5 separate regions of the Homo sapiens genome follow, and all the other regions are linked to region 1. The links come from fine-mapping of genetic effects on gene expression. A gene starts in region 1. Each other region holds a variant in brackets. All regions are shown on one strand. Distances are from middle to middle.

Region 1 (6,330 bases):
ATGTATGATATAGATATCCACTGGCAAGTCAAGACTAGCAAATATTTTCAAAATCAGAAGCAATGAGATATCATAGTTTCCTTTAATTCTTTTGGGAGCAAGGCAGGTTGACCACAAACACATCAACATACTACTCTGTGAATAAACCAAAAACCATTGAATAGTACACTTTAAATGGTGAATTATATGGTATAAGACACATATCTCAATAAAGCTGTTATTTTTAAAAATCAACAAAACATGTTTTAACCAAAATATTCGTTTCCAGACAAGTATCCCAAGAACCTAGCTATTGTCCTTAAAATGTTTATACTGCTGGAAAAACTTACAAAATGGAAGCCTTGTTAAATTGCTGTGACAAAACCATTACCATTCTGGCTAAAAAGAAGAAATTGAACAGTCTCTTGTCCTTCACTGTAATAGGAACTGATCTGTATCACACATTAAAATCTGCCCTTAAGATCTGAATGACATTTTTTTAAAGAGCACTTTTCAGATTTAACCACAATGTTAAATACCATAATTATGGCATATCACTAATACATCTTTCCTTGTAATCTATCCTAGAACTTCCTTCCTATAATCCTCTGCAAGGGGAAGATCCTTGTGCTTATCCACTGATAATACTTCTAATGATTTTCCTATTCCTCTAGTAATTACAATAGTAGTTTTTATCTCTGGAATCAGCCCAACCTTCCCCATGTCCCAACCCATTCCCTAACTTCTACTAATAAATATCATACCAGCTGTCTGCCTGCTGTTGAGGTAACAGCAGGTTATTTATGCCCCTATAGATTCAAAGTGGGTCAAGAATGTAAGAAGCAGACTATGAGCGTGTTGAGGGAAAGGACTGTATCTTGTTCATTGTTAAATCCTCTAAACATTAAGCAAAGTACCTGGCACACAGGATGCCTGATAAGTATTTCTGCTTGCCATTAAGCTAAGGCCCATTCACAAAAAGAATTTGCCAACAAATAACCAAGTAACCAGACTATTAATTAGGCATAAGTATATTTAGAAGAAGGCAGTGTAAGCCCCAACTTCAGTCTTGATCTCTAAGCCAGTCTGTCTTTATAATGACAAAGAGGTTAAAAAAAATTTTTTTTCAACACACGGTCTTGCTGTTTTGCCCAGGATGGAGTGCAGTGGCACAGTCATGGCTCACTGCAGCCTCAACCTCCCAGGCTCAAGCAATCTTCCTGCCTCAGCTGATCATCCTGCCTCAGCTCTCGAGTAGCTGGGACCGCAGGCGTGACTAACTCGCCCAGCTAATTTTTATTTATTTATTTATTTATTTTTTGAGACAGAGTTTCGCTCTTGTTGCCCAGGCTCGCGATCTTGGTTCACTGCAACCTCCGCCTTCCAGGTTCAAGTGATTCTCCTGCCTCAGCCTCCTGAGTAGCTGGGATTACAGGCATGCGCCACCACGCCCAGCTAATTTTCTATTTTTAGTAGAGACGGGGTTTTGCCATGTTGGTCAAGATGGTCTCGAACTCCTGACCTCAGGTGATTCACCCACCTCGGCAACGTGTTGGGATTACAGGCGTGAGCTACCGTGCCCAGCCTAACTTTTTAATTTTTTTGTAGAGACCAGGTCTCATTATGTTCCTCAGGCTGTTAAAAGGTAAATTTTAAAATAGATTGTGATAAAGCTGTGACAGAAGCCCAAAACTTTACCATTTACAAATCACAACATCTTTTCAATTTTTTCTCCCAAATTATCCTGGGGGAAAAAAGCATTCGAAATCCAACAACAATTTATTATCCACTCAGTCTCTAGTTAAGCAGCCTACTATTAGGTGACTCAAAGATGACTGCTCACCATATAGAACGGAGGGTGTCCAATCTTTTGGCTTCCCTGGGCCACACTGGAAGAAGAATTTTCTTTGGCCACACATAAAATACACTAATGATAAATGATGAGCTAAAAAAAAAATTGCAAAAAAAACACAACAACCCATGTTTTAAGAAAGTTTATGAATTTGTGTTGGGGCACATTCAAAGCCGTCCTGGGCCCACATGCGGCCCATGGGCTGCGGGTTGGACAAACTTGATGTAGAAGTGGAGGGGATGGGCTACACAAAGTAACCAAGGAATGTTTACAGACTGATTATCTCTTCATGTGAAAATGATTTTGATATTTCTTAATATCGACCTCATAAGTTCCTTATGAGGATTATGAGTTCATATTTTTAAAACGCTTAAAACAGTACCTGGCACATAGCAAGCACCATATTAAGTGTTTAAGTTACTTTTAATCAGTTTCCAATTGCATTCGTTCATATGTTAGAGATCTACAATGCCTAAAGAAATTACCAGGTTGAGAGAGAAGTTCCAACTGTACAGTCGTTAAATCTAAAACTAGAAAGAAAGAGGTCTCAGACAATGTTTCATGCAAGCTCATTTCATGGTTGAAGAAATTAATCATATATCTCATATTTGCAGAGAAATTCATAGGTTACAAAAAGCTTTCACAACGATTATTAAGTTTGATTCTCACAACAGCTTGTAAGGGATGCAAGGCAAGTATAATTAACTGCATTTACTCATTAGGAAATCGAACCAGAGATGTTAAGTGACTTGTCCAAGGTCACAGTTAGTAAGTCCCGGCTTGAATCCAGGTCTCTTGATGCCCAGTCTTCTTTCCTCTACAAAACACACTGCAACTTGGGCCCTGGACTTCAGTGACATTTGGAAACAATGATTCCAGTGATTACAGGACCCTAAATGAAAGTTCTGTTGCAAAAGCTAATGTGAAAAGGCAACTCTATTAACTGCATGTAGAAGTAATCAATATCTGGCAAAATATCTACCTACACATGAGTGTACAGTATAAAATGCCATGATTACATATATTCACAAAGGTCATCACAAATCTGCGCAGCACTCAAGTGACAGTTCTCCATAATATGTCATTCAGAGATCGCCAGACCCTGAGTATATTGATGTCAGTCTAAGAAAAGACTGCCACTTCCCTTAAACCAAACCCAGAAGGGAAAGGCTTGCCCCAGAGGATGGTAAAGACATGGAGCCTAACAAGGCTCTGCGGGATTACACGCAGGTTGCAAACTCCCAGCGATAAATGAGTACCGACCCTCCCAGCCGGTGAATCAGCTCGCGTTCATCCGGCAGCATCTTTCCCCGGGGCTCGCCACCCCCAGCGCAGCTAAACTGGGGAGCTAAAGGTGATACGGCCACCGTTTGCAGGATTCAAAATAACCTCACAGAAAGGCTAGCTGGCGGTAGAAGCGGCACTGCATACCAACACAAGACGTTATTTTAAGCGCGTGTCCCCACGAGAGAACCCATCCGATCTACTGGAGCAAGCATCTCCCACCCGCCGGGAATTTTCCAAAGCCAAGCAGGAGGGGAGGCACGCCCGCCCTGCTAAATCCACATGGGCCCCCTTTCCACTCCGAAGCCCGCTCTGCCCCCAGCTCGAGCAGCGCGGCAGGGGCCTGGGAGACCCCCGAGGCGGGCCACCTTCCGCCGCCTTCACCATCTCGCCCGAAAGAGGAAGGTGCCGCAGCGGGCGACCGGCTGGTAGGGCCGAGGGTTCTGAGGCGCTGAAGGGGATGGCGCTGGTGGGGCTCGCCTGGGCCCGGCGCTCCCGCCCCCTCCCCAGCCTGACAGCTGGCGGCGAGGGCCGCACAGCCCCAGTCCTCGACGCCGGCCGCGGGGTGCCTTACCTTTGTGTAGAGCTCCGACGCAGCCATGGCGGGCCCCGCGCGCCTACGCCCCCCGCCTGTGCGGAGGCCGCACCTCGCCTGGGCGGCCGCCCGAGCGGACTAGGAAGCGCCCGCAGCCGCCGGCAGGGAGCAGGGCAGGGCAGGGCCGGGCGGGGAGGGCCGCGCGGGGCGGGGCGGGGCGGGGCGCCTCAGGCGCTGGCCGCCCGCAGGGGCCTCGCCATCACTCCCGGGCTCGCCGCGAGCAGCCGCGAGCGCTCCACCTGCCCGGGGTCCTAGGGGTCGCCGCCGCCGCCGCAGCCACTTCGGCGGCCCGCGATGCTGCCTCCGCTGCCGCCGCCGCCACCGCCGCCGCCCTGTGCATTATGGGAGCGGGAGGAGGCTGCGCTCCAGCGCTGCCACCGCGGCTGCTCTGGGCTCTCTCGGGCTCACGCTGCCTCCCATCGGCTACGAGCACAGAGCATCATCATCATCAGCCTGCCAGCCGGCCCCGCCGCCGCCTCGCGCCCTGCCGAGGCCCGGAAACCCGCCCGGGACGTGAGCCCCGAGGGCGCGGCACACCCCGGGCGCCCCCACCCCGAAGCGAGCCCGGGGCCCTCTGCTGCGGAGCCTAGCTCCCGCGGTAGCGCAGCCATGGCACGGGCTGTTACTGTGTCCGAATAAACGATGGGAGCCTCCAGGCTGCTCCTCCCGTCCTTCCAAGCATTCCTAGGGAGAGGATTTAGGGGAAGCCCTCTTGAAAGACTGTAGAATAACCCAGGACTGTAGAAGAGCCTTGTCAGCAGCAGTGACCCGGGAGATGGGCAATGCAGGACCGGGAATTTCAGGTTAAGGTTGATCACCAAGGTCATTCCGAGCACCTCGATGTCTGCAGCAAAGTCGTCTCCCGATACCAGAGGGCAAGGGCCGCTTCTAAGCTACAGAAACTTAAGTGACTTTGAAACGAGATAGCCCGGGGACAGCCCAGGTGCCTCTTTCCTAGACCTGTGCGTTTGCGGAGATGCAACTACCCTTCTGTCCCAGCCTTCTTCCCGTCCTGTTCGCTGCTGGTGATTGTCGGCTCCATGGTGGCACCTGAAGTTTATCCGGTTGCCACCTGAAAATGACGGAGTACTTACATGGAAAATCTGTATTACAGTTTAACTCAACATCAAAAGGGCAAAGCCGCCCTCACTCTCCTCACGGTGATCCTTGAACATCCAGCACAAGAATGTGGTCTTTCTACTCCCAACCCTGCGCTGTCTTCATCCTCTATCTTCTCCCCACCCTCATTGTCGTTTCTGGTTGAATAATCTTCATTCTTTATTGTTGTCGTTGTTGTTGTTGCTGTTTTTGTTTGTTTAATCCCTGCCTCTTTGTAGTGCCCTCATCTCTCGTTTCTTTGAACTACAACTGGTCCCCAGTGCCTGTCATGGTAATCTGGTAGACCATTTCTATCACGAACAACTCTCATGGCTGAGGCCCCCGGTTGTGTGTGTTGTGTGCGTGTGTATTTGGAGAAAGACCATTCACTGAAAGGAACGGGGCCAGTCCTTACTCCGTGGAACTCAGACCTCTCCTCTTCGCCCACAATCCCCTCAGAAATGCTAGAGGGAATGTCTACTGAGTCGAAAGTCCTACAGATTTGTCTCTGTTCCTTCCCATTGCAAAACCAAATCGCTTTCATGTTTCTGGGACCCACTCTTTCTTCACCCAGACATAAAAAGAGAAAACGTGTGCAGTGACGACCAGCGGAACGGAAGGAGCACTGGACTGAGATTTAGGAGGCCTGGCTCCTACGCCTTGCAGTTTCTTCATGTCGTGTGCAAGGTGGTAACCACTCTGCCTGTTTTCTCACCTTCAAATAATACCTACCTCTCAGGACTGTCGAGAAATGCTGAGTATACTGAGAAAAAAAAAAAAACTAAAAAACTGGACGAGTTCTTGTAGGTGTGAATGCTTTCTTCGTTTTCTATTTTTTTCAAGTGATGAGGAGAAAACAGAAAGGGGAATTATCCTCTTATAAGTCCAGAACGCATGCATTCAACCACTCAAATATTTGGGGCCATACTAAGAGGAAGGTAATGGAGATGAGGAGGAGAAGAGTTTTGTATTTTTATTTATTGATTGATTGATACTGAGTCTTGTTCTCTTGCCTAGGCTGGAGTCCAGTGGCACAATCTCGGCCCATTGCAACCTCTGCCTCCCAGGTTCAAGCAATTCTCATGCCTCAGCCTCCTGAGTAGCTAGGATTACAGGTGTCCACCACCACGCTCAGCTAATTTTTGTATTTTTAGTAGAGACGGGGTTTCACCATGTTGTCCAGGCTGGCCTCAAACTCCTGACCTCAGGCTATCCGCCCGCCTCAGCCTCCCAAAGTTCTGAGATTACAAGAATGAGCCACCACGCCTGGCCGGGTTCTGTATTCTTGACCTTACTTTACTTTGTTCAGAAAAAAAGCAGAGTAAAAAGCCAGAAGCAGCAAAGGGAAGCCCCGAGGGGTGGCCTCCGCTCACTTCCATGTATGCGTTCATAGTCCCAAGCACCCTGTCACTAGTGAGGTGTAGAAATCAGCAATAGTTACAGCTTCTAAGGGTTTAGGATCCCCCTCTCAGAGTAGCCAGAGGGTAGTGTATTCTTAAGTTGTTAAAGTTTTCCGTTATTG
Region 2 (6,330 bases), 120 kb after region 1:
AGAATCACTTGAACCCGGGAGGCGGAGGTTGCAGTGAGCCGAGATCACGCCACTGCACTCCAGCCTGGGCGACAGAGGGAGATTCAGTCTCAAAACAAACAAACAAAAAAAAACAAAAAAACCCTGTATTTTAAAGGTTTAAATCTCACCATATATGAAAGTCTTTAAAAATATTATTTGGTAGAGTTTTAAAATCTTTATAAAGTTCCTGAATATATCTGTTAAGTTTATTCAAAAATTAGATGTTTGTTGCTTTTGTGAAAGGCTTTTTTTTTTTTAATTTTTGGAAAGATGGTCTTTCTATGTTGCCAGGCTGGTTTTGAACTCCTGGCCTCAAGCAATCCTCCAACCTCGGCCTCCCAAAGTGCTAGGATTTCAGTCATGAGTCACTGCGCCTGGCCTACATTTTCTAACTTAATTTCTATTCTTATGGAGGAAAAATTTAACTTTACCTCTTCATCAGATTCTTCAGATTAAAAAATTAGGGTAAGAAACAATCAGATGATCTCTGTTTCAGCTTACATACATAATTCTTCATTACATCCATCTCATCTGATCCTATTACCCTCTTTCATGTCTTTTTATCATTGTTAGAAGAGCCTATGACATCTTATACTTTTCCTTCTTAGAATTTAGCACAAATAAAATTAAGTCATTATTTGAGCTTTATGAGAATTAAGACCAACTACTATTGCTTAGCACAGTGCTCGACATGAACAGGTAGGCACTCAAATGGATGTTTAATGTTTCACTGTATTTTGTTTTCTTAGTTTCAGCTTATTTCTGGTTAAAGTGATGAAAGCTAATTGTTACCCTTCCCAGATAACTATTACTTTATTCTTCTCTTGGATTTCATATTTTAATTGCCAATTGTTTTTCTATATTATCAATGTAATTCTCTTCAATGAGATAAGGAAACATTTGTTTAAAATGATTAGGCAATCACTAAATCTCTACATCAAGGGCAAAAATTGTCAAAAATAAAAAATAAAAGGGGAGAACACTTTGAGTTCTAATTTCTGTATTGATTACTAGAATTTCTAGGCCTCAACAGTCATTTAAAGGATTATAGATTGATCACAGCAACCTATTGAATGCTTATGTGAGCAGCTGAGGGCAACTCAAACTATACAAAGAAAACTAAATTCTAAGTAATTTGAAAGGCTAGAAGAGTAGAAAAAAGAAGTATTTGATATTTATGTGTTAAAAACTGTCTGAGATTCAGCTCTTCTCCAGAGGCAATGGGAGAATAAGCTACTGTTGCTAACTTCTAGTAGGGGGCAGTCGTATGGAGAGAACACAGATAAGCCTAATTCATGGTAATGTGATAAATGAGGTCAGGCGCAGTGGCTCATGCCTGTAATCCCAGAACTCTGGGAGGCCGAGGCAGGCACATCACTTGATGTCAAGAGTTCGAGGCCAGCCTGGCGAACATGGTGAAACCCCATCTCTACCAAAAATACAAAAATTAGCTGGGCATGGAGGCACATGCTTGTAATCCCAGCTACTTGGGAGGCTGAGGCGGTAGGATTGCTTGAACCTGGGAGGCGGAGGCTGAAGTGAGCCAAGATCACGCTATGCCACTGCGCTCCAGCCTGGGCGACAAAGCAAGACTCCATCTCAAATAAATAAATAAATAAATAATTTTTTAAAAGATAAATAAAATAGGAGTAGATCAAGGTGCTATGGGAATATTTAGGAGGGAACTCAATCTTGGACATCAGAGAAAGCTCCCAGTGGGTATGATATCTAAAATGTATGACTTAGAACTAGTCAGTGTTATCGAGAAAACTTACTGGTTTCCTCAATTCATTTCTGTCTTACCTGCACTAATCCTATTCAATTTCATTTCTCTGTGCTCTGTGTAAACCATCAGACACAATTCATCATAGTCTCAGGGCCTGAAGACTCTCAAGTAGAAAATATTGTCCTTTTCACTATTCTTTGTGGGAATATTCCTGATTATATGGTGTTATCACTCCACACCTCATACAGAAAGAACTCTGAGACAAAGATCTGAGAAAACATTGTAACAAAAGGAAACAAACTCCTGCCTCTCAAAACCAAATTCTAGATTTACCTGTACTCTCATAAGAATATTCTGTGTTAAAAAGGCAACAATCCACTATCCCAGTGCTGTTTTTTTCCCCCAGCTTCATTAATCCTACACAAATGGCACATGACTTTCCAAAATTATCCTTAAACTTAACCTAGTTTAGTCTTACATTTTTACCTCATGGGAAAATGGTTACAACA[T/C]AGGCTGGTTTCCCAAAATACATTCTGTCCTTTCAACATCCTTCTCCCAACCATATGAATGACCCCTACTTCTAGTACTCTCAACATCCTATTTCCCACTGAATGCGTCTATGTGTGAAATCTAAAACTCCTGGAGAAATAAAAAGTGGACGGAAGACAGGTCTTTTTAATTAAGAGGTGAGAAACTTGGGCACACACAGATCAGTTCTGCTTGATTCTCTTGAACAAAGATAGAACTGGGTGACATTCATAGCAGTGGACCTGTCATTTCTTGTGCAGAATGATTTCTGGAAGAGATTCCGGGTGGCAGTCTAAGGCCAAAGGAGGTGTCATTAGGTCTTCTCTAATCTCAGTCTACAACTCAGAGATGTGGCCTGTAGGTTCTGAAGACCTGAACACCGCATTCCAGGCTGGTCCTTTTGTGCTAGGTTTTCTATTTGAAGCCCATCTAGAACGTAGGAGTCCACAAAGGGATACTGGGTACTGTCCAGGGCAAACCCATCTACAAGGGTACTAATGTATGGAGCACATATGGGAACATTTTACCATATCCCTTGAAGTGGGGGAAAAAAACCATGTGACACTTTGCTTGCATACATATTCTGAAAGTTGCATCCAGTCTGTTTTAAGCCTCAATTTTTAAATATTAATGCTTTCATACTCTGACTATAAACAAATTATGTTAAAAAAAGTTCTTAACCTAAGGTAATTTATGATCCTCTTTGGTATTTTCCACAAAATTATGTGTACATAAATATAGATGTGTTTTTCCCCCTAGCAAGGGGGTTGATAGCATTCAGCACATTCTCAAAAGGGTCAGTAGAAGATGCTGACGTACAGCAATCATTCTGTTTCTACATGGATATTTTTGAGAGAAGCGATTTAAGGTAAGTATGCATTACCCAAAAACATATACACCAATGCAATGTAGTCATTTAAAATTAGGATACCTATTTTTAAAAGGGTTCTCCTCCCCTTTTGTCAACTGTAAGTAGTCTCTGGGCCCAATGCAGAAGCTAATTGGTTAATATTACTGGACTCAATGACAGTGATAAAATGGAGTATACTTGGAAAATACTTTTGTTTTGTTTTACATTTGTGTGTTCTCTTTCATTAAGCTAACCTGCACCTTCCAGCAAATTGGAGGGCTAAATTAGTTTATGTAAAAAAAAAAAAATCACAAAAATTTTACCCTTGATCAAAATATGAAAAATAGAATGGAAACCAGATTAAACCTCTCTCCCAAAATAACATATGTCAGCTCAAAGCAATGAAAATACTGTGGTCAGTTGAAAGAAGCTGAAGTTTTGTGTACTTATGAAAATGACAAAAGAGCATTTTGGCTTTGAAGTTTGAGTTTTCACAAAACCATTAGATTTTTAGTCTTAAATTTTAATATTTCAAGACAATTACACTCGTATCTGTGATGATATTTAATTTCTGCCTTCCAGGCAGCTGGCTTGTCCCTTGTCATTAATATGGAAGGCAATTACAATGTCACCTTTAGCTCAGTTCTAGCTGAGGAATTCAAAAGAAAAGTCAGAATAAAGTTACTTCCCAGTAAATAAATCACCAAGGGATTTAGCAACTCTAGTCAATCAGCTCAGCATTTGCAGGGGTCAAAGGGGTGGGGGAAATCTGGGGGTGTCAGTACACACGAGTGTACATACACACACAACAGAAACAATAACACTACAAGAATCAAACTGTATGAATATGTTATCAAAACACTACAAACAGAACAAATGTTTCTTTTGCCTTCTATGTCTCTTCTCATTTTACTCATTCTTTCCTTACCACTATTGACTATTATCTTTCTTCAGATATTTAGCCATGCACTTACCCATGAACCCTGTCTTCTTTTTCTGCCCCAATCCCCATATCTCCATGGCTTTCCAGTTAATGAAGTACCTTAGGAAACTGAGAAACCTAGAAGTGTATCTTAGGGAAAGGTCTAAAAAACTATGCTTAAAATTCTCAAAATACTGAGAAAACTCAACATATTCACGTTTTTAACGTAGAATAACTTTAAAGGAAAGTTATAATACAATCTCACATTTTATTATAATAGCTAATTAATAAGTAGTAATGAATCTAAGTAGTTTCGCACATTCTTTCATTTAAATCCCACAATCATCCTAAAATCTCATGATACCGAGGGGGATACTAAGGCCCAGAAGGTGAAACTATGCCCAATATTACACAGCTAAATAATAAATTATACAGGCAATCCACCCAAAATTGTTTTTCCTTTTTATTTATTGATATACCACAGTTGTATGTATTTTTGGGGGTACATGTGATATTTTAACACATGTATATGATGTGTAATGATCAAATCAGGGTAACTGGAATATCCATCACCACAAACATTTATATTTTCTTTGTGCTGGGAACATTACAATTCTTCTCTTCTAGGTATTTTGAAATATACAATAATTATTAACTATAATTTCCTATCATATTATTGAATGACAGAACGATTTCTTCTAACTGTATGTTTGTACCCACCACCCAAAATTTGAACCTCAAAAAACAAAACACCTTCAAAATATTAAGAAAACAGAAACCAACATAAATTTTAATGGTAAAAATTTAGCAATGTTAAAGAACAGGAATATACATAACTGATTCACACAGCATCCCTCTCATATGACAGATGACAGGAAGCTTATAGCAAAATCTGAGGCCCATCCATGTATGAGCCTTAGGGGCTGATTACTTTTTATACTCTATCTTGACTACTTCCTCAAATTTATAATTTTACTGTTCCTGGGCTTATTATAAACCTTCTCTTCAAGTCCTATGATGTCCAGAAGTCTTTCAGTGAGTAAAACTGAGGAATCCAGTGAAGAAAGAACAGAAAGATATTTCCAGTTTCTCAATAGTCCTCATGCTGTCACTTTTATAACTGAGCCTCATCACAAAGGATTATATAATAGATTCAAGTAATACTGCAAACAATTACATTTTTAAAACTTAGGTCTTTGAATTTTTGATACTATAACATCTGAAGATTAAGAAAAAAATTTACTATATACTTGCAAAAGCAATACAGTTTATGCAAAAACACTGTCGATATGTGAAAATGCCTGACAAAAAGTTGTCAAGACCAAAGTTTTGGCCCTGCTGACTATGAAAAGCAAATATTTCTTAGATTCAAACTATGAACAAGTAATGAAATTTCCGCAAGGAAGAGTCAAGGAAAAAAATGTGTCATATATCACTTAAGGCATACATATAGAAATCAAACATTTGTGATAATACCTGAAGTAGGAACGACTTAAAAAAAGATTTTCACAGAACACTTAGAGAAAAAGAAAAACTCAGATTGTTACCCCTTCCCAATCTGAGTTTTTAAGTTACATATTTTTTAAAGAACTGTAAACAGCATTATATATTATTGCCTGATTTCAAAATAATCAAAAACAATCTGTTTTACTTAAAACCAACTGTAGCAATCACTGCATCTAGTAAATACTAGCACTTCTATTTGCTATTCCTTATAAAGAGGCAAAAACAAAAAAGAAATCACTGTTTTTGAGAATTAAAGTATTTTTCCATAAGCACAAAACAATAGCCAATTTAAAGATATGACATAGACAAAGACAATAAAAATTATATTGTCAAATAATAGACAAATCCAAAAAACTGAAATATGCTAGCAATGTTATTATAACTGACTAGATTATAAACCTCAACTACCCTGAAGTTCTGCTACTGAATAGGAACTTTCAGATGCTCCAGTATATAAAACATTTTTAGGTGCTAAGCCCAGCAATAATGTCTGGAATTCTGCCAATAATATTCCTCCTGAACACAATGGCAAAGCCTCTGTGTGACACAGCAGTACACTCAACTTTCTTACAATTTCATGTTCCCCCATCTTTTGCAGCATATGAATGAGAAATAGCCTTTCTCTTGGAGGCTCTATTAATTTTTATGAAATAAACCAACATAAAATGGGTAGCAAATCAATTTAAACAAAACTTTGGTTTTTATGGTTCTATAATTAGAAAATAAAATTAGTAATTCATAAGAGTTACAGCTAAAAAATGAAAATTGCTAGATTGA
Region 3 (6,330 bases), 95 kb before region 1:
ATATTAGAGAAGACACTAATTTGAAAGGTAGAGAAGATCTGTAACATCTTCACAGAAATTTCCTTCTTGGAGTTAGGCTTTAAATGGACATAAACTGCTCCTCTGGAATCACTGGACATCATTAAATAAATATACTCTTCTACTATTACAAAAGCCATGCTTTCTCTATTTTATTCTAGGACCCTAAGTGACTATAGTTTCTAAAAAGAGAATGATTCTTGAATAGTTCAGGAATTTTATAATGTCTGTTCTTCTTGTTTGACCCCTGTCCCTAGTCTTGCTTTTATTAAAGGTATGTATCATTCTATTTCTAGATTTTTAAAAAATACTAAGGATTAATAAAATTAAACATAGACACTGTACTCTGGTTGGCAAATCTGCTTCTTATAATAGGGTATGGATTAGCAATTCTGAAATAACTTTATGTCTATAATGAATAAGTAATATAGCTAATGAAAACCAAAAAGAGAAGTTATAGTACACATAATCAAAGGAAGAATAATAGAATGAACCTGGTGGCATTGGACTGGAGAAAAAAGGATCCCTATTAACTCACGGGTTTTATTTTTTTTAAAAAAAGTCAAGGCTGGGTGCAGTGGCTCATGCCTGTAATCCCAGCACTTTGGGAGGCCGAGGTGGGTGGATCACTTGAGGTTGGGAGTTTGAGACCCGCCTGGCCAACATGGTAAAATCCTGTCTCTACTAAAAACACAAAAATTAGCCAGGCATGGTGGCATGCGCCTGTAATCCCAGCTACTCAGGAAGCTGAGGCACAAGAATCATTTGAACCCGGGAGGTGGAGGCTGCAGTGAGCCGAGATTGCACCACAATACTCCAGCCTGGGTGACAGAGCAAAATTCCGTCTCAAAAAAAAAAAAAAAGTCTAGTGCAGTAGCTGATGCCTTTAATCCCAGCACTTTGGGAGGACGAGGTAAAACGACTTCTTGAGCCCAGCAGTTCAAGACTAGCCTGGGCAACATAGCAAGACAACCATCTCTAAAAACACATTATATATATAAAATACATACATACAAACACATACATACATATGTAAACATAGACATAAAGTAAGTATAGATGGTTGAGTATACATTAGTATAGTATGCATACATATTAGTATCTATCTATCCATCCATGTATATATTTTTCTAGCTCTCTATGCTAAGAGGGCTGAGAAGTGGTGTCATCTCAATAGCAATGAGCACACCTAGTGCTCAGATCTTGGCTGTCAAATACTATCCTCCAATATAAGGTAACAGGGCTGGGAAAGGGGAAATACAGGGTAAGTATCTTAGGGTACCAGGAGAAGTGCTATATCTAAAAAAAAAAAAAAAAATAAGCCAGGCACAGTGGCTCATGCCTATAATCCCAGCACTTCAGGAGACCGAGGTGGGAGGACTGCTTGAGCTCAGGAGTTCGAGACTAGCCTGGGCAACATATTGAGACTCCATCTCTACTAAAAAAATTTAAAAATTAGCCAGGCATGGTGGCTCATGCCTGTGGTTCCAGCCACTAGGGAGGGAGGCTGAGCCTGGGAGGCATGATCAAGCCACTGCACTCTAGCCTGGGTGACAAAGTGAGACCCTGCCTCAAAAAAAAATAAAAAAGGATAGGGACCTGTCAAAAAAGTCAAAGGACCCAATCTAAGAGAGATCTCAATGACCAAAGCTGGAACAATTTAATTGATAAAATAAATAATGATAGTAATGAAGAATAAAAGAAATACCCATGAGCCCATAATAAATAAATGATTAAAGTAATAAATAAATGGGAGAGGAGAAACAATACTTCCTTCCCTATAGAAGAATTCTAGTTAATAAGTATAGAAGGAAGGAAAGAAATGGAGAATCACCACTAGAACACAACGATATTTGCTGCAGGCAAGACACAGTAATGAACACTGGGCAAATATTAGCAGGAAAAGTTTAAGGAGAAGCAGGATATATGAGTGGCCTCAAAGCATCTGCCCCAACACAATGACATTCATTAATTACAAAGGGAAAACAGTAACTTTACAGTGGATAACATGGCAGACATCACCTTAAGCAACTGGTCATGGCCAGCAATCTGCAAAAATCCAATATAGTCAAATAGTATAAGCACTCATCTTAGAGTCATCTGTGTTCAAATCTCACTTCAAATTCCAAAAGCCACTTCCTGGCTGTGTGACCTTGAGCAAAACTACTTAATGACTTTGAAGTTTGGCTTTCTTATTTGGAAAATAGTGATTATATCACCTGCCAACCCATAGGGTTGGTGTGAAATTTAACGTGAGAAAATTCACTCCAAAGTGCCGAACATTTTGCCTAACAAAGCAGATGACCAATAAATGTTAAATAAGTTAATTCCCTAGTTTGGTATTAAAAGCCCTCCTAATTGGCCTAATTCTTCCCCGCCTTCCTCCCAACTAGTATCTTCCCCTCAGTTTTGCTCTCCATGCTGCCACCAATGAGTCTCCTCTAAGACCTGGCACCATGCCTCTTTTTAAAAACACTACAAGCACTCCCCATAGCACACCAGTTAAATGCAAGAGTTTTAGGATTAGATGTGAATCTAAACCTGATAATCATAATAAATTCACAGGCCAAAATAGAAGCTTTTTAAAGTATCTGCTATTTTCACTAATCTATGCCATTAAAAACACTATCAGGATAGAAAACTGAGTTTGCCATTTTTACCAATTTAGTAAGTAAAAATTCTAGGTAAGTTCAAAATTTAACTTCCATTGGGAGTTTACTTCACAGTAAATTTACACTTTTGAACTCCCTTCACTTTATGCCAATGACAACAAATGAAAGTGAGATCTCACCTTTCCTTCCTCGAGGTGAAGCAGGAGGACTTTATCTCCTGGCTTATAATCTTTGAGCAGCTCTGCTGACTTCCAGACTTCCTCTGGATCAGGTATCCAAACCCTGGCAAACTAGAAGACAAAAAGAAAAAAATTTAAACTAGCAAATCAATTATTTTACAATCATATATAAACATATGATAACTATTTATAATTAAACAATTTATGAAAAAAGAAATCTTGGCCAACATGAAATTCACTTTTTTTTTTTTTTTTTTTTTTTTGAGACAGAGTTAAGCTCTTGTTGCCCAGGCTGGAGTACAGTGGCATGATCTCAGCTCACAGCAACCTCTGCCTCCTGGGTTCAAGCAATTCTCCTGCCTCAGCCTCCTGAGTAGCTGGAATTACAGGCGCCTGCCACCACACTCAGCTAATTTTTTTGTTTTTAATAAAGATGGAGTTTCGCCATATTGGCCAAGCTGGTCTCCAAACTCCTGACCTCAGGTGATCCACCCGCCTCAGCCTCCCAAAGTGCTGGGATTACAGGTGTGAGCCACCACGTCCAGCTGAAATTTACTTTTTAAATTAGTAAACAAAAAATATTTTAGCTCTCATAGCACCACCATTCCCAAATTATATAAAAAGTGTGCTCTGAAAAAACAGTTATGATCAAAGCTTGACTTTGCTTTACACAGTAAATGCCACCTGAAAGTATAATTTTAGGTTAAAATGTACACATAAGATCTATTTTTGAAGCTATGGTGTTGTGGTTCTGCCAGTTTCAACAGCACTGCCATCTTTTTATGGCTGGGTTTACAATTTGGATTTTTTTGTTCTTTCTTTTT[CT/C]TTTTTTTTTTTTTTTTTGAGATACAGTCTCGCTCTGTTGCCCAGGCTGGAGTGCAGTGGCACGATTTCGGCTCACTGCCACCTCTGCCTCCCGGGTTCAAGTGATTCTCCTGCCTCAGCCTCACGAGTAGCTGGGACTACAGGCATGTGCCACTGTGCCCAGCTAATTTTTGTATTTTTAGTAGAGACGGGGTTTCACCATGTTGGCCAGGCTGGTCTCGAACCCCTGACCTCGTGACCCACCTGCCTCAGCCTCCCAAAGTGCTGGGATTACAGTCATGAGCCACCGTGCCCGGCCCACAATTTGGATTTTTTTATGGTGGTTTGCATCCTGTGCTCTGCAAAGCCTTAGTGATTTCTCAGACATCCTTCAGGAGCCATCACAGTAGGGAGAAGAGGAGAATAAAAATAACAGATTTTTTAAAACTGAAGAAACACGGTTGTTCAGCATTTTGCCTTCATTATTTTATAAAGATGAGTGGGAAATGGTAAAAATGGCACAGCCAGTCACTAATAAGCTTAGCTCCTGTAGCCTCAACATCATGAAAAAGGCATGGTAATCATCAGGGATTCCCAAAGCAGCAAATATTTTGCCTCAACTAGATACTCCCTGGACATAAGCCAGAAGATTATGTGGTCAATTTTGAAGAAAAAGAACAAAATATACTAACATGCACAAATCTTTCGAATACCACATTGAAGAAGTGTTTTTATGTGCTTGGACTCTCTGGGAAGAAATTTCCCTTTAAAACACACATACACTAAACCTAAATGCCCATTTTCATGAACAAATCACATATGAAAACAGGAATCCTAGATTCAGCCAGCAAGGGAAAGACATGACACAATCAATCATGGCTGGCATGGGCCAGACTGAACCCGGTCTCTGGCCTGTATCTGTATCCTCATTTCATGTAAATTCACCTCTAGATTTCATTTTTAACAATAATCAGGGTACTAATTTACTTGGAGCTTTGAGAAGGAGCATTTGGATTTGAGTATGTTAAATATGGGGCAACTTCCCAAAGAACTGTGATAATGTAATGACTATTCTAAGTACTGGGCACAAAGTTCTGGAAGCTTGTAACAAGGTCATTCCCAAGTACAAGAGAAATTTATATGACCCAGTGATGAACTTACAGATAGGAGAAAGCGAAAAGAAAGTGGGTGAACGAAAGTACAGGTAGATCTGAGATTCAAGATAATTTAAATTAAGAAAAACATTTCAGCATGCCATGCCACTGTCCTGGATATTACGTTAACCTCTTTTTTTTTTTTTTTTTTTTTGAGACGGAGTCTCACTCTGTCACTCTGTCACCCAGGCTGGAGTGCAGTGGCACGATCTCGGCTCACTGCAACCTCCGCCTCCTGGGTTCAAGTGATTCTCCTGCCTCGGCCTCCCGAGCAGCTGGGACTATAGGCACATGCCACCACACCCAGCTAATTTTTTTCTATTTTTAGTAGAGACAGGGTTTCACCGTGTTAGCCAGGATGGTCTCGATCTCCTGACCTCATGATCCACCCGCCTTGGCCTCTCAAGGTGCTGGGATTACAGGCATGAGCCACCATGCCCAGCCTATGTTAACCTCTTTACTGACAAATATTTTCAAGCCTTCCTATTGGGAAGCTGCTGTGGTATATTGCCATAGTTTCCAAACTACTAGATTTCATGGCTGGTAAAATTTTTTACTTAAAGTTTGGGGACTGATATAAGGTTATTAACTAACTTTTAGTCTTGACAAGTAAGATTATAAAACCATTAATTATTGGCAGCACTTACAGACAAGTAGAGGCTAAAGCCCTCACACTCAGCAGAGGCAACATAAATACCAATTTACTGTCTAATATCACCATCGTTTTACAAAATAAAGGACATTTTAACAAGAAAACAGTAGGACAAATAGCCATCACAGTTTTTTTGTTTTCTGTTTTTCTGACACAGAGTTTTCCTCTTGTTGCCCAGGTTGGAGTGCAATGGCATGATCTCGGCTCATTGCAGCCTCCGCTTCTGGGGTTCAAGCGATTCTCCTGCCTCAGCCTCCCAAGTAGCTGGGATTACAGGTGCCTGCCACCACACCTGGCTACTTTTTTGTTGTTGTTGTATTTTTAGTAGAGACAGGGTTTCGCCATGTTGGCCAGGCTGGTCTCAAACTCCTAGCCTCAGAGAGTGATCCTCCCACCTTGGCCTCCCAAAGTGCTGGGATTACGGCGTGAGCCACCACACCTGGCCTGGCCATCATAGTTAACATACAAATCCCTTACCATGTTCTACAAGGGCCTTCATGACCTGTCCTTTCCTTCCCCTGCCAACCTCTAAGCCGGCACTATGCAGATCTTATTTTAGTTCTTCAGGAACACAGTTTTGTTTGCTCCTGTCTCTAGACCCTGGCTCTTGTTAAGCCCTCTATAATGTACTTCTCCCAGATCTGCTTATGTCTGCCTCCTTCTCACTTATATGATAGCTCAAATGTAAACCTCTTCAGAGAGGCCTTCCCAGACCTTTCTAGCGGAAATCAATCCAAACTACTATTACCATTCTCTATTTTACATTCTTCAGCACTCTTATTCACTATCTGAAATCACCTGCTGTTATGTTCTTGTTTGTTTACTTATTTACTATCTCTCTTCCTTCATTAGAACATAAGTTCTGTGTCTGTGTTGTTCAACACAGCAGGCAGTACTTAGAACAGTACCTG
Region 4 (6,330 bases), 150 kb before region 1:
TAGATATCTCATATTATCTCATATATGAAACCAAAAAATCTGACACATCCACATATATCTAAAAAATCTACAATTATTTCAATTTAAATCAATAAAGTTTACATTGGAAACCTAGCTAGAAAAGTGGTCCTTACCCGCATCCCGCTTCACACCTCACACCAACCCTGCCTCCATCTTTCAGCCTCCTCTGCCTAACTAAATTCCCACAAAGCCCTGATCCAGGCCTGAAATGGCCTGGGTGAGAGGACCAGGAATAGGCCTGTTCCTACTTTCTGCTCTACATTCCCACCTGAACACAGGTTAGAAGGGGATTGGGCAGGCTGGGCGCAGTGGCTCACACCTGTAATCCCAGCACTTTGGGAGGCCGAGGCGGGCAGATCACGAGGTCAGGAGTTCAAGACCAGCCTGGCCAACATGGTAAAACCCTGTTTCTACTAAAAATACAAAAATTAGCTGGGTGTGGTGGTGTGCACCTATAATCCCAGCTACTGGGGGGGCTGAGGTAGGAGAATGGCTTGAACCCACGAGGCGGAGGTTGCAGTGAGCCGAGATGCCACTGTACTCCAGCCTGGGTGAAAGAGCAAGACTGTCTCAAAAAAAAAAAAAAAAGAAGGGAATTGGGGCAAACTCAAAAAGCCCCAGTTAAAAAAAAAAAAAAAGCATTGCTGAGGAAGTGGCCTTAGCTCTTTCAAGGAAAAAATATTATTAACAAAAAAAAGGCATCACATTTAGTTCACAGCTAGTAATTATGATCAATTAGCTCAAAGTGAGGTACTCCATCTAGGATAGTGTTAACCAAGTGAAAATATTATTTTAAAAACTTTTCATGAATCTTTAATTCTCTAAGACCAAGATCAGTAGTTCTCAAAATATAGTCCTCAGACAGCATCGGCATCACCCGGGAAATACAAATTCTTGGGCCCAACCTCAGACCTACTGAATCAGAAATTCTGATGGCGGGGCCCAGCAATCTGTATTTTAACAAGCATTCCAGGTCACAGTAAAGTTGGAGAACTCTTTAGCCTGGTCTGCAAGACTCTCTGTAACACCAACCTACATTTCCTAACCATTTCTCTACTGTCCCATACACAAATCTCACACTGCAAAAAACTGTTTTCTGAGCAAACCCTATGCTTACCCTGCTCTTACTCCCTCTTATAATAGTCTCCTTCCATTTTTGCATAACCTTACCCATTCTCAGGGCCTGACTCAAAACACACCTCTTTGATGAAATCTCTCCTTCCCATAGCTGGACGTCGCTTTGTCATCCCCTGATTTCTTGTTCCATTCATTCAGCATTTGATATAGACACTACAGTTAAATATTATACTCGTCTTTAAAAAGTATTACTTTCCAAGTAAGACTATATTACCTGAGAACAAGCTTTATTTTTTCTTAATCACACAGCATTTGGCCTGGTGTCTTCTAGATGTAAGTACTAGGTACACTTTTATCAATAATAATCAAGCTGTCTAAGAAGAATGTGTTTCAAATGTGGGTCCAGGCCTCACAGCTCTGCCTCCTGACGGTGGACTATCATCCTCGCTAGTTCCAGCATCCTAAACACAGTAGTGTGCCCCTCTCTGATCCCACCCCGAAATGATCTGGACTAGTAAAATGTTATACAAAAGTTCCCGGGGCTTTCCAAGGTCAGAACCACAAGGCCTTCTGCTCAGATGACGGTAAGCGAAATCATTCTCACCAGTATCAGTTTCTCTAACACATTCTTGCATGTTTGCTTTCTGTCACTCAGCACATCTTTCTGCTTCATTAGGACACGGTAGCGGCTGAAAAATTCTTGGTAAGTCCACCTATTAAAAGAAAACCATCTGAGTTTACTTAAAGAACTAGGATCTTCTCCCATTAGGATCCCTTACATCTGAAAAATGCCAGGCTCACCGTGAGGGGAAACCGGCCGCACTGATTCGGATGGTTTCCAGGACACCACATGCTCTCAGCTGCTGCACTGCCCTCTTCTCATCAAACCTACAAATAAAAATCAAAGCTGTTAGTCCACAAAGAACCTGGCTGGTGGCCACAAATTACTCTCCTCAGTCAGGGTGTAAATTCTTTCGTAAGAGCAAAATGGATAAATCAGAAAAGAAAGCTTTCAGAAGTCGGAGCAGTGATCAAAATGGAAAACTATGAGAGAATGGGGAGGAGATGATAAGCAGTAAAAATAAAGAGCTGTAAACATTACCTGCAACTCAAACCACAAACTCATAAGAGTGTGCTGGGCGAGGTAGCTCACACCTATAATCCCAGAATTTTGGGAGGCCCAGGAGGGTAGATCACCTGAGGTCAGGAGTTCAAGACCAGTCTGGCCAACATGGTGAAACCCCGTCTCTACTAAAAACAGAAAAATTAGCCGAGCATGGTGGCATACACCTGTAATCCCAGCTACTTGGGAGGCTGAGGCAGGAGAATCACTTGAACCTGGGAGGTAGAGGTTGCAGTGAGCCAAGATCGCACCACTGCACTCCAGCCTGGGTGACAGAATGAGATTTTGTCTCAACAACAACAAAAAGAAAGTCCACTGAGCACATTTAAAACAACACAACATGGCTGGGCGCAGTGGCTCACGCCTGTAATCCCAGCACTTTAGGAGGCCAAGGGCAGGCGGAT[C/T]ACGAGGTCAGCAGTTTGAGACCAGCCTGGCCAACATGGTGAAACCCCGTCTCTACAAAAAATACAAAAATTAGCCAGGCATGGTGGCAGGCGCCTGTAATCCCAGCTACTCCAGAGGCTGAGGCAGGAGAATCGCTTGAACCCGGGAGGCAGAGGTTGCAGTGAGCCGAGACCACGCCATTGCATTCCAGCCTGGGTGACAGGGCGAGACTCCGTCTAAAAAACAACAGCAACAACACAGCACTCCTTTGCACTTTGCCCATACTCATTTCATGGCATGGCCTGACAAGAAGCTCTCAGAAGTCATTAGCTCAGTATACAGAGCTCCCCTGGAATAAAGACTGGTCAACCCTGGAGATTTCTCTAACAGGAAGCACAAATTAAATATGCCCCATACGGTTATATTTTTTTAAAAATTACTACTGTTCTAAACATAGTGTCTACATCAATGAACAAGATTTTTGTTTTGTATTACATTTTGTATTTATTTTACTCTAGGCAAATGACATCTTCAAGTTAAACTGGCACTGAAGAGGAAGTAGAAAGGTTTCCCTTCGGCCAAATGATTGCTCCTGTGACTCCCATAGTTAAGTTCTGAGCGATCCATCCGGGCCTCCCCTGTGCTATCTTCTCAGGTGTCTGTTGGTGGTGGAAGAGCGGGTTGGTTGATAAAAGGTCATGGTCCTGAGGGCTGTCCAGGACAGAGGCCAAAGTGTAGCAGCTTCTTCCTGCTTCCCACTTCTTCCAGAAAGGACTTCTTGGTGATGAAGCAGAGAGAAAGACAGCAGTCCTTCAGAACTGTGCTCCAGTCTAAGGCAGAATCTCCAGACAGCAGGACTGGCACGGGGGTAGGGAAAAGGGCACTCATACACTGTGGAGGGGGTGAGGGGTGGGAGCTATTACAACCTTTGTTAAGTGTGCCTGGTCTTTGACCTATAAATTCCACTTCTAGAGTCACATTATCCCAATGAGATAATCAGACAAATATACAAAAATGTTTGGCACAGGATGTTTATTATAGCATTGTTGGAACAACTTAAATGGCCATCAGTAGGAACTAATTTAAATAAATATACTATGTCTACACAATGGGATACTCTGTAGCCATTATATGATTATGTGACTTTTTACTTACCAAAAGGGAAAGTGTTCACAATCTGTCAAGTTAAAAGTAAAGACTAAACAGCAATCATAGCACAAGGCCCCTCCTTTTGTGTCTCTCTCTCTCTCTCTCTCACACACACACACACACACACACACACGGAGCATGGAGGGAAGGGAAGGTGGTTAATCAAGAACAATGTATGACAGTTAATACCAGTTATCTCTCTGGGTATGATGGATGCTTTTTCTTTTCCTTTTTTCTTTTTTTGAGACGAAGTCTCACTCTTGTCCCGCAGGCTAGAGTGCAGTGGAGTGATCTCGGCTCACTGCAACTGCAGCCTCCCAGGTTCAAGTGATTCTCCTGCCTCAGCCTCCCGAGTAGCTGGGATTACAGGCGCCCGCCACTACACCCGGCTAATTTTTGTACTTTTAGTAGAGACAGGGTTTGACCATGTTGGCCAGGTTGGTCTCAAGCTCCTGACCTCAGGTGATCCACCCACCCTGGCCTCCCAAGTGCTGGGATTACAGGTGTGAGCCACTGCACCCGGCTGACGGATGCTTTTTCATTTATTTTTATACTATTCTGTATTTCCTGAAAACTGTCTTTACAATGTACATGTATTACTTTTAAAATTAGAAAAATAGGCTGGGCATGGTGGCTCGCGCCTGTAATCCCACTGGGAGGCCGAGTGGGGACGGATCACGAAGTCAGGAGTTCAAGACCAGCCTGGCCAAGATGATGAAACCCTGTCTCTACTAAAAATAGAAAATTAGTTGGGCATGATGGTGCATGCCTGTAATCCCAGCTACTCGGGAGGCTGAGGCAGGAGAATCACTTGAACCTGGGAGGCAGAGGTTGCGGTAAGCCGAGATCGCGTTATTGCACTCCAGCCAGGGCAAGAAGAGTGAAACTCTATCTCAAAATAAATAAATACATACATAAAATTAGAAAAATATTTCTGTTTTGTAAAAAAAACTCCAGAAAAATTGATTCTCCCTTCATGCATGGTATCTGAAGCAGGAGGAGGTGCTGGTGAAAACAGACACCCTCTGATGATTTCAGCAGTGGAGAAGCAGCAGGTAAGCATTCGCCAAACAGCCTTATCCCAGCCAGTGCTGGTTCCACCTAATGCCCAAATGAACAAAAATCCCAGAGAGATCAATTGAAGTAAATTCAAAACAGAAAACAGAACCAGAATGCTTGGTTGACCTCAAGTTTTCAAATCTTCAGATGGCTGCTAATTTACTCTCACATTCTCAAAAGGGACAAAAACTGAAAAAATAATCTACTGACTAGTGGTTTCCCTCTACAAGGCATGAAGACTTACCCAAATATTTTTTTCCTTATAAAAATGTAAGGAAAATATTAGTTTGCTTGGCTGGTTTGGCACTTCTTATAAGATATGTACTTTTTCACTGGGTGGTTCAGAAATACTTACGTGAATGGGAACTTGAAGTCATTAGGCTTGATACAGCGCACATAGTGAGGGGTAGTGGCATTGAGTGTCTCCATAAGCAGGTGCAGGGAGTTTCTGAACTGCATGAAAAAGGGCAGAAGAGGGTATCAAGGCTTTGTCCAAAGTCAAAGGTGAGGTAAAACAATGGGAAATTCCCTTCCTATGACACTAATGGAGAAAACTTTGCCACTTATAAACTTGACCCATCTTCAGAAGAGGAGCTGCCACAAAACAAGAATGCTAGGGCTTTTGGTTAAAATTTGCCTAAATTCTACCATTTTCATGCTTACTCTGCTAAATATAGATTCCTATACTCCCACTCCTTTTCCCCACAGGAAGCTACAGAAACCTGTTATGAGCTTAGTCATATGTAACTAACAATATAACCTTGCTTTAAGGCTATTTAATCACATAAAGTGGGAATTTTGATGGAAGATACTGGAAAACGTAGCAGATGACTTAAAAGAGTATAGGTAATGAATGAGAGAATGACAAAGGATAGGCAGAGAGGAGTTAAAATTAGGGACCTAGGATCAGGACTGGAGGCTGTGGACCTGGGTCAGGCCCTGTTTCTGTCTACACCAGGCACAGGGTCCCATGCACAGGACAGCAAGCTGAGGAGCGCTCAGCCTCCATTCAAAGCCCTACTCCCTGTTCAGGCACTAAGCATGTATGTAACATTTCCCACTCTCAGAGAACATAAGACATCAAAGAAAGGCGAGGGCCCTGTTCTGAAGGAGCTGACCGAGGCACTGTACAAATATAGAGACAAAACAAACAGAAAACTAAGCAAAGATGGGGTGGTCTGAGAGACGATATGCACGAGAGAATTAAGCTGTAGAGAAAATTATTTCGGGAAAGGCTTATGCAGAGTCACAGGTCTAAAACTGGGTGGAGAAGAGTTTTAGTGGATGGTGTCGTATGATCTCACAGTGAAAGCTCTAGGCTCTCCTCACCTGAGGATCCCACCTGGGAGGCTGAAGAGGGAAGATCTGAGGTTTCAGATGAGCCAGAAAGGAAGGAGCGTGGCAGCGGCAGCTCCCTGAACTCACCTGATGCCCCACTGTTTTCTTGTGCTCTTTGGCCATTTGGCCTGGTCTGCCTTTGGTGGGCTTTGCAGGAGTTCGTGTGAGGGGTGTGCGCC
Region 5 (6,330 bases), 200 kb before region 1:
TGCTGTGTAGCCCAGGGTGGAGTGCAGTGGTATAATCACAGCTCACTGTAGTCTTGAACTCCTGGGCTTACATGATCCTCCCATCTCAGCCTTTTGAGCAGCTAGGACTACAGGCATGTACCACCTCGCCTGGGTAATTTTTTTTTTTTTTTTTTTTTTTTTTGGAGAGATGCGGTCTTGCTATTTTCCCGAGGCTGGCCTTGAGGGTTTTTTCTTTTTCTTTTTTTTTTTTTTAAAGTACTAGACATTGCCAGGCTCTTCTCTCTAGAGATTTTGATTTAACTGGGCAAGAGGGAGAGAGATACATCAGTATGGTTCAAAGCTTCCAGGTGATTCTAATGTGCAGCCAGGGCTGAGAAGACCTGATCTTGAGCAATCCTTGTAGGTGGGTCTGAGGCATGTGTCCCTGCAGTTGGACTGAAAGTGCTTGGTGTGGTCAGAACACTACTGCAGCACTAGAATACATGGTATCTGATGATGACTAATGAAACCTACGCTGAATATCTCAAAAATTAGTGACTAGTTTTTCCCACCATTAACCCATGTGCCAGAAGGAACTTTTATCCAATGCAGAAAATACTTGCCCAGAATCAGGTTCTTAACAAGTTTTTGCTCATCCTCCTTCTTGTATTCCAGCATCCCTTGGAAATCCTTTTCTTTCCTGGGAATGTTGACTGGTCGGATGGGTTCATCAATGATCTGTCCTGGGGATATGTTCTCCATCTGGCCCACTTTATGAGAAGTAAGAAAGGAGGAGAAAATGTTTTCCATATAAAAAACATGAGAGGTCTCCAAGTTCCTATAATTTTGAATGCATTCTACAACAACCGAAACTTGCCATATTTGCCACTTAATTGCCTTCTCTTAAAATAATTTTTTTCTGTTAAAATTGGGTGAACAGATGGCAAAATTATATGGTCATCTTACTCTGAAAGCCACTCCTGCCTAACTGTAAATTAACATCAAATAACCTTACATGACTCAAAACTTTTTTTTATGTAATAAGGCTTACTTTTTAATAAGATTAAATGTCCAAAAAGTAAGTGGTTTAACAGATTTGTTAATTAATTGATACTAATCAGAAATGGTTAAACATATTTTGACTTTAATTCACAGGAGGAACAATCAATATCCTACAAAGGGGCAGAAGGAGCAGAAACAATTCCCCCTTGCTCTTGGCTCAATGACTTTAGCCATTAAAAGCAAAAGAACATTTACTTTAAATGTATCATTACAATCAATTCAAAACACATACAGATAGCTGGTAGAAGAGTGTTTCTTCATACCACTTGGTCCAAAATGTATTATTTTTCACAAAGGCCTCATATGGCAAAGACCTAATTTTCTCCTGCCATCCTCATTCCCAGAGAAATCATGAACAGATAAACTATCTCTATGTAGTATGATTTCCTAAATGTTATTATTTTTTATTTCTTTTTAATATAATGTTAAAAATTCTACTTATAAAGTTGCAATCAATGAAGTACAACCACTGGTTTACAATGCTTTCAGATGTTAAAAATAGTCACTATTGTCAAGGGCAGCAGCTAGAGAATTATGCTAAAGGTTAAAAAAAAAAGTCTCCAATTTCATCTCAAAATTGAGACTTGAGTGGGAAATCCAACAAAAAGTAAAGGGACATATGAGTTACCACAGCCACTGTGGAGATACACGCTAGTAACCAGGTTTTTTATCCTTTTATCTACAGGGAGGGAGAGTGGTTAAGAGATTTGTTTAAGGGCAGATTAAGTTTGAGTTCTGAGATTGCTGTCAAACAAAATGCAGATCAGATGCAAAAACATTAGAAAGCTTAATATTGCTGACTCCACGAGGTGTCAGTAGTGCTTCTTGTGTCACTCTGGGTAATTTCCTGGGTTAGTTCTGAGAAGCCAGTCCCACAGGAAGAGGTTATCACAGAGAACATCAGTACCTGCCAGTGCTCTTGCTTATGTGGCATGGAGCCTGGTGACACACCGTCCACCTCATGCTGCAGCAGCACACACTGGGACTATCAGCGCTGAAAATCTGGTTTAGGTGAAGTCACCACCATCCAGCAACACTATGATATCTAAAGAGTGGTCAGATTGTGATTGGACAGATCAGGGCTACGGCCATCTCCCATAATCTAGTTTTTCATATGCATGATCCAGTATGAAAGCCACGGGACTAACTCTAAAGTATATTCTTCCATGCAAGAGAAAAGGAGACTCAAACTGTTTGGTTTTACATAATTTCTGGTGTCAGTTTAAACACAACACCACAAGGACCTCTGAAGCAGCACACAGTGGCCTCTACAGATCATAAACCTGCAGCTGCATGTAAAAAACAAAATTATAAAACCCCTGCCATCTATGCCACTAGTAACTTTTAAGCCGCATGTACAATTCCAAAAGGGGAAACTGGGAGAAAACAAGTTCAACATACTAGGTTTATCAATAAATGCACATATTTGGACTCCATGTAACCCAAAGAGCATATTTTAAACCCACTGATTTATCAAATCTATGATGCTATCGGTTATGAAATACAGTATTTTATGTAACACTAAAAAAATTGCCAACTAAACTATAACCCATCAACAATTGTAAGATACACCCCAATTTCAGAGATGTTGAAATGGGAAACACTGCATCTCAGAATTTGTGAAATACAATGGATATTTTTACTAAGAAAGTTTATGTTTTAAAAGGAAGCTTCACCTTCCTTTTGCAAAATCTCTAACCAGGATATTTTTGGTACTGTATAAAAATGTCAGATAGAATGTGCCATACTCTCACTAAAAACTTTCTCTCTGCCTCTGAATTCTCCCTAGGGACTTAAGTCTTTGCAAAGCTCACAAATGAAATTTAGATGTCAGTTCAACATAACCTTGATTGATTTTGCAATATTATCTACTAATTAAAATAAAATGTTGGCCGGGCACAGTGACTCACACCTATAATCAGAGCACTTTGGGAGGCCAAGGCAGGCAGATCACCTGAGTTCAGGAGTTCAAGACCACCCTGACCAACATGGAGAAACCCCATCTCTACTAAAAATACAAAAAATTAGCCGGGCATG[G/A]TGGTACATGCCTGTAATCCCAGCTACTTGGGAGGCTGAGGCAGGAGAATCGCTTGAACCTGGGAGGCAGAGGTTGCAGTGAGCCGAGATCACGCCACTGCACTGCAGCCTGAGTGATGAAAGCCAAACTCCATCTCAATAAATAAATAAATAAAGAGGCAACTAGCTAAGCCTTTTGCCCTTCCACCTTCTGCCATGTAAGAACACAGAGTTCGTCCCCTTCAGAGGATCCAGCAACAAGGCACCTGCCATCTCGGAAGCAGAAACCAGACCCTCTGAACTTGCCAGTGTCTTGACCCTTCAGAACTGTGAGAAATAAATTTCTGTTCTTTATAAATCACCCAGTCTCAAGTACTTTGTTATAGCAGCACAAAGGGACTGAGGAGCCCAATGATCCATTCTTCTAGGAAGACCTGAAAAAAGACTCTAGTTTCATTTTCTAGATTCTTTATAAACTTGAGGGAACCTTTCTGTCTTCAAAAAGGAAAGAAAATTGGAAAGTTTTAAAAAAATTTACTTTTGGCACCAGGAAGATCTTGATCTCAAGTTTGAGACAATCAGATGAATTCCTAATAAGTAGAAGATTTCTGTGGGAAAATTTGACACAAAGGAGAGAAATCAGTGGCCCTTAGAAGGTATGTGTTCTAGTCCTGCCATCTCACCTGCTGCAACCATGGGTCACTTACAGGCCTTAGTTTTTTCCTCTTATGAAATAACTAATTGATTTCTAGAATCCTTTCAGGTCTTAATTTCTTGATTCCATGAAAATTAAGATGGGTGAAAATATAGCACAAAGCAGATCAAATTTTGAAACACTCTCCATTTAGCTATATAGTTTCTGCCAAAAATTATATATGCTAGCATTTTTTTTAAAAGTCTGTTGGCTTTTTAAAAAGCCTCCTTAATTAAATGTAGCTTGTAGGAGGAGGCAAGAGTTGTGCTATTTTAAACCAAAAGGATTTAAGTGTGTTGCAATACATTTAAAGAAAAGTATAAGACAACGTTTAGTTATTAGAAGGTGCCTGTATTTTCTGTGTAACAGGCAGATACGAGGATGAAAAGTGTCACCTTGATTCTCTTTATTTGGGGTAGAAGCAGGTACACTGCACTCAGCAAGTGCCCAAGTCACATAAATCTATTTCATTTCATCCTCTAGATATGTATCACTTAACTCAAAATGTAACTCTTCTTAAGAACTATTATAATGCCTTTTTTGTTTGATCTATGAATTGCTATTCTCAAATGCTACTTATGGCTTTACAGCTGTCTGGATAGTTTAAATGATGAGGTTGATTTCTGATTGACAATGGCTTAAGATTAGTAATATCTTAAAATAGTCTAACCCATCTCTTCAACTAAAAAATATACATATCAAAGAAAACTAATAAAAATTATGTAAAATAATGAATGGCTTTTCTGTTTATCAAAATTTACTAAAGTATGGCAAAGGAATCATTAGGAGTTGAACAAAAAAAGAATCTCACATGTTAATACACTTAAAATCTGTTTTTTTCAAACAAATACTCTGCTGTCTGATTATCATCTCATGATATAATTGGTGCAAAGTGCAAAAAGTTCTCTGAATAAAGATTTTTAAGTTCTGCTAATAGACATTATAGCTCATGTGTGTGTGAGTGTGTGATGTGGAGGCTCAAATTTTAATGTAATATATGACTCATGTAATGCTAAAGGATTATATATAAAGTGTGACTATAAAATAATCTTTCTGATTTCTAAACAAATATTTCAGTATTTGTACATCCAACAGAGTAATATCCTTTACAAAGTAAATGTCCATGTTGCCATGTTATAAATATTTCTGAAACTTACTCATTCACTCAACAAACATTTATGGAATGATTATGAGATAGGTCAGACACTATGCTAGGTGCTGTGAAAGCAAAGGGAAACAGAGATGTTTTCTATGCTCAGGAAGCTCAGAGTCTATTATGGAAGCCAGTAATTCAAACAGAAAAATTGCTAAAAATATGACATAGTGAAGACCATAAAAGATGTCGGCCAAATTGTGGTACACAGAGAGCAGAACCATAACGTCTGTCTGGGTAATCAGGAAAGGCTACTCTTGAGGATGTGACATATGACTCTGGTCTCAAAGGCTGAGCAGGACTTAACCAGGAGAAGCAGGATGACCAAACAGAAGGAGCAGTTATGACAAGACCTGGCATGTTGGAGGAATGAAAACCACACTTGGAGTTAATCATGATAGATTCTTTTGAACATCCTCAGTGATGGGGAATCTTCACTGTTTGAACCAAGCAAGAATTAGATGCAGAATGACAATGAGAGAAAATGATTAACCGTTCACACAGGTTTGAAGGCTATTCCAAAGACTGTCTCAAAATCCCTTAAGCAGTGAGAACATTGAAATAAGCTTAAAATTTGGCTTTAGGCTGGAAGCGGTGGCTCACGCCTATACCCAGCACTTTGGGAGGCTGAGGCAGATGGATCACGAGCTCAGGAGTTCGAGATCAGCCTGGCCAACATGGTGAAACCCCGTCTCTACTAAAAATACAAAAATTAGCTGGACATGGTGGCATGCACCTGTAATCCCAGCTACTCAGGAGGCTGAGGCAGGAGAATTGCTTGAACCCGGGAAGCAGAGGTTGCAGTGAGCCGAGATTGCACCACTGCACTCCAGCCTCAGCGACAGAGCAAGACTCTGTCTCCAAAAAAAAAAAAAAAAAAAAAAAAAGGAGTTTGGCTTTAGCCTTGTTCACTGCTAGATCCCTGTACCTATAACTCTTAACAAATAAACACATAAACACACTAATAGAAAAGATAAGATCCATTTGTATATAAATAATAACAACAACTGATATTTGGTTATTTCTCAAGGAATTTTTTCATCATCATCATATAGAAATCATGAGATGTTTTTAAAAATCTTATTTCTTTATCATCATAATTCATATTTTTCTTTTTTACTTCTCTATTTTTCCTCCATTAGACTGTAAGTTCTTTGAGGACAGACTCTATCATACTCATCTTAGTATCCCTAATACTAAGAATAATGATAGTGACTAATAACTAAGTCGCATGAAGCATTTTTACTATGCGTCAGTAACTTTTCTAAGTGTAATATACTTATTAGGTTGATGCAAAGGCATTTGCAGTTCCTGCCATTAAAAGTAATTGCCTTTGGACCAACCTAATAGCTCATTCAATCCTTATAAACCATGTCAGATAGATGCTATTATCTTTCTAATTTAACAGATGGGAAAGCACAGGCATACAGAGGTTCAGAAACTT

Alleles and levels. Positions count from the first base shown, and alleles are read on the strand shown. Sizes are in standard deviations (SD) of each study's normalised expression. Not every link is listed here.
With allele C in place of T in region 2, the expression in neutrophils of the gene that starts at base 3,790 in region 1 is higher (large effect, 1.6 SD a copy in BLUEPRINT).
In carriers of allele C in region 3, the expression in subcutaneous fat of the gene that starts at base 3,790 in region 1 tends to be higher than with CT alone (moderate effect, 0.70 SD a copy in TwinsUK).

Evidence for each region. PIP is the estimated chance that this variant, and not a neighbour inherited with it, causes the effect.
Region 2: its variant is fine-mapped to the expression of MYO5A in neutrophils (BLUEPRINT, PIP 0.92).
Region 3: its variant is fine-mapped to the expression of MYO5A in subcutaneous fat (TwinsUK, PIP 0.95).
Region 4: its variant is fine-mapped to the expression of MYO5A in whole blood (TOPMed, PIP above 0.99).
Region 5: its variant is fine-mapped to the expression of MYO5A in esophagus mucosa (GTEx, PIP 0.96).

Annotation. Positions count from the first base shown.
Region 1 is chr15:52,525,091-52,531,420 of GRCh38, forward strand. It overlaps MYO5A (myosin VA), which reads right to left and starts at 3,790. Exons shown (of 42, transcript NM_001382347.1): 1 at 3,690-3,790. The coding sequence starts at 3,716. RefSeq lists a silencer at 3,440-4,319.
Region 2 is chr15:52,643,822-52,650,151 of GRCh38, forward strand. The region is part of intron 2 of ATOSA (atos homolog A); the gene reads right to left. Among named protein-coding and RNA genes, the nearest start is that of ATOSA, 32 kb to the right of the region's middle. The variant T/C (reference allele first, on the strand shown) is at 2,257.
Region 3 is chr15:52,430,366-52,436,695 of GRCh38, forward strand. It overlaps MYO5A (myosin VA), which reads right to left. Exons shown (of 42, transcript NM_001382347.1): 2 at 2,810-2,920. Among named protein-coding and RNA genes, the nearest start is that of MYO5A, 95 kb to the right of the region's middle. The variant CT/C (reference allele first, on the strand shown) is at 3,634.
Region 4 is chr15:52,377,923-52,384,252 of GRCh38, forward strand. It overlaps MYO5A (myosin VA), which reads right to left. Exons shown (of 42, transcript NM_001382347.1): 15 at 6,239-6,330; 16 at 5,169-5,266; 17 at 1,900-1,986; 18 at 1,703-1,811. Among named protein-coding and RNA genes, the nearest start is that of MYO5C, 85 kb to the left of the region's middle. RefSeq lists enhancers at 1,397-1,786, 5,562-5,621, 5,662-5,891. The variant C/T (reference allele first, on the strand shown) is at 2,626.
Region 5 is chr15:52,329,769-52,336,098 of GRCh38, forward strand. MYO5A (myosin VA) reads right to left here. Exons shown (of 42, transcript NM_001382347.1): 35 at 585-731. Among named protein-coding and RNA genes, the nearest start is that of MYO5C, 37 kb to the left of the region's middle. RefSeq lists an enhancer at 1,980-2,109. The variant G/A (reference allele first, on the strand shown) is at 3,061.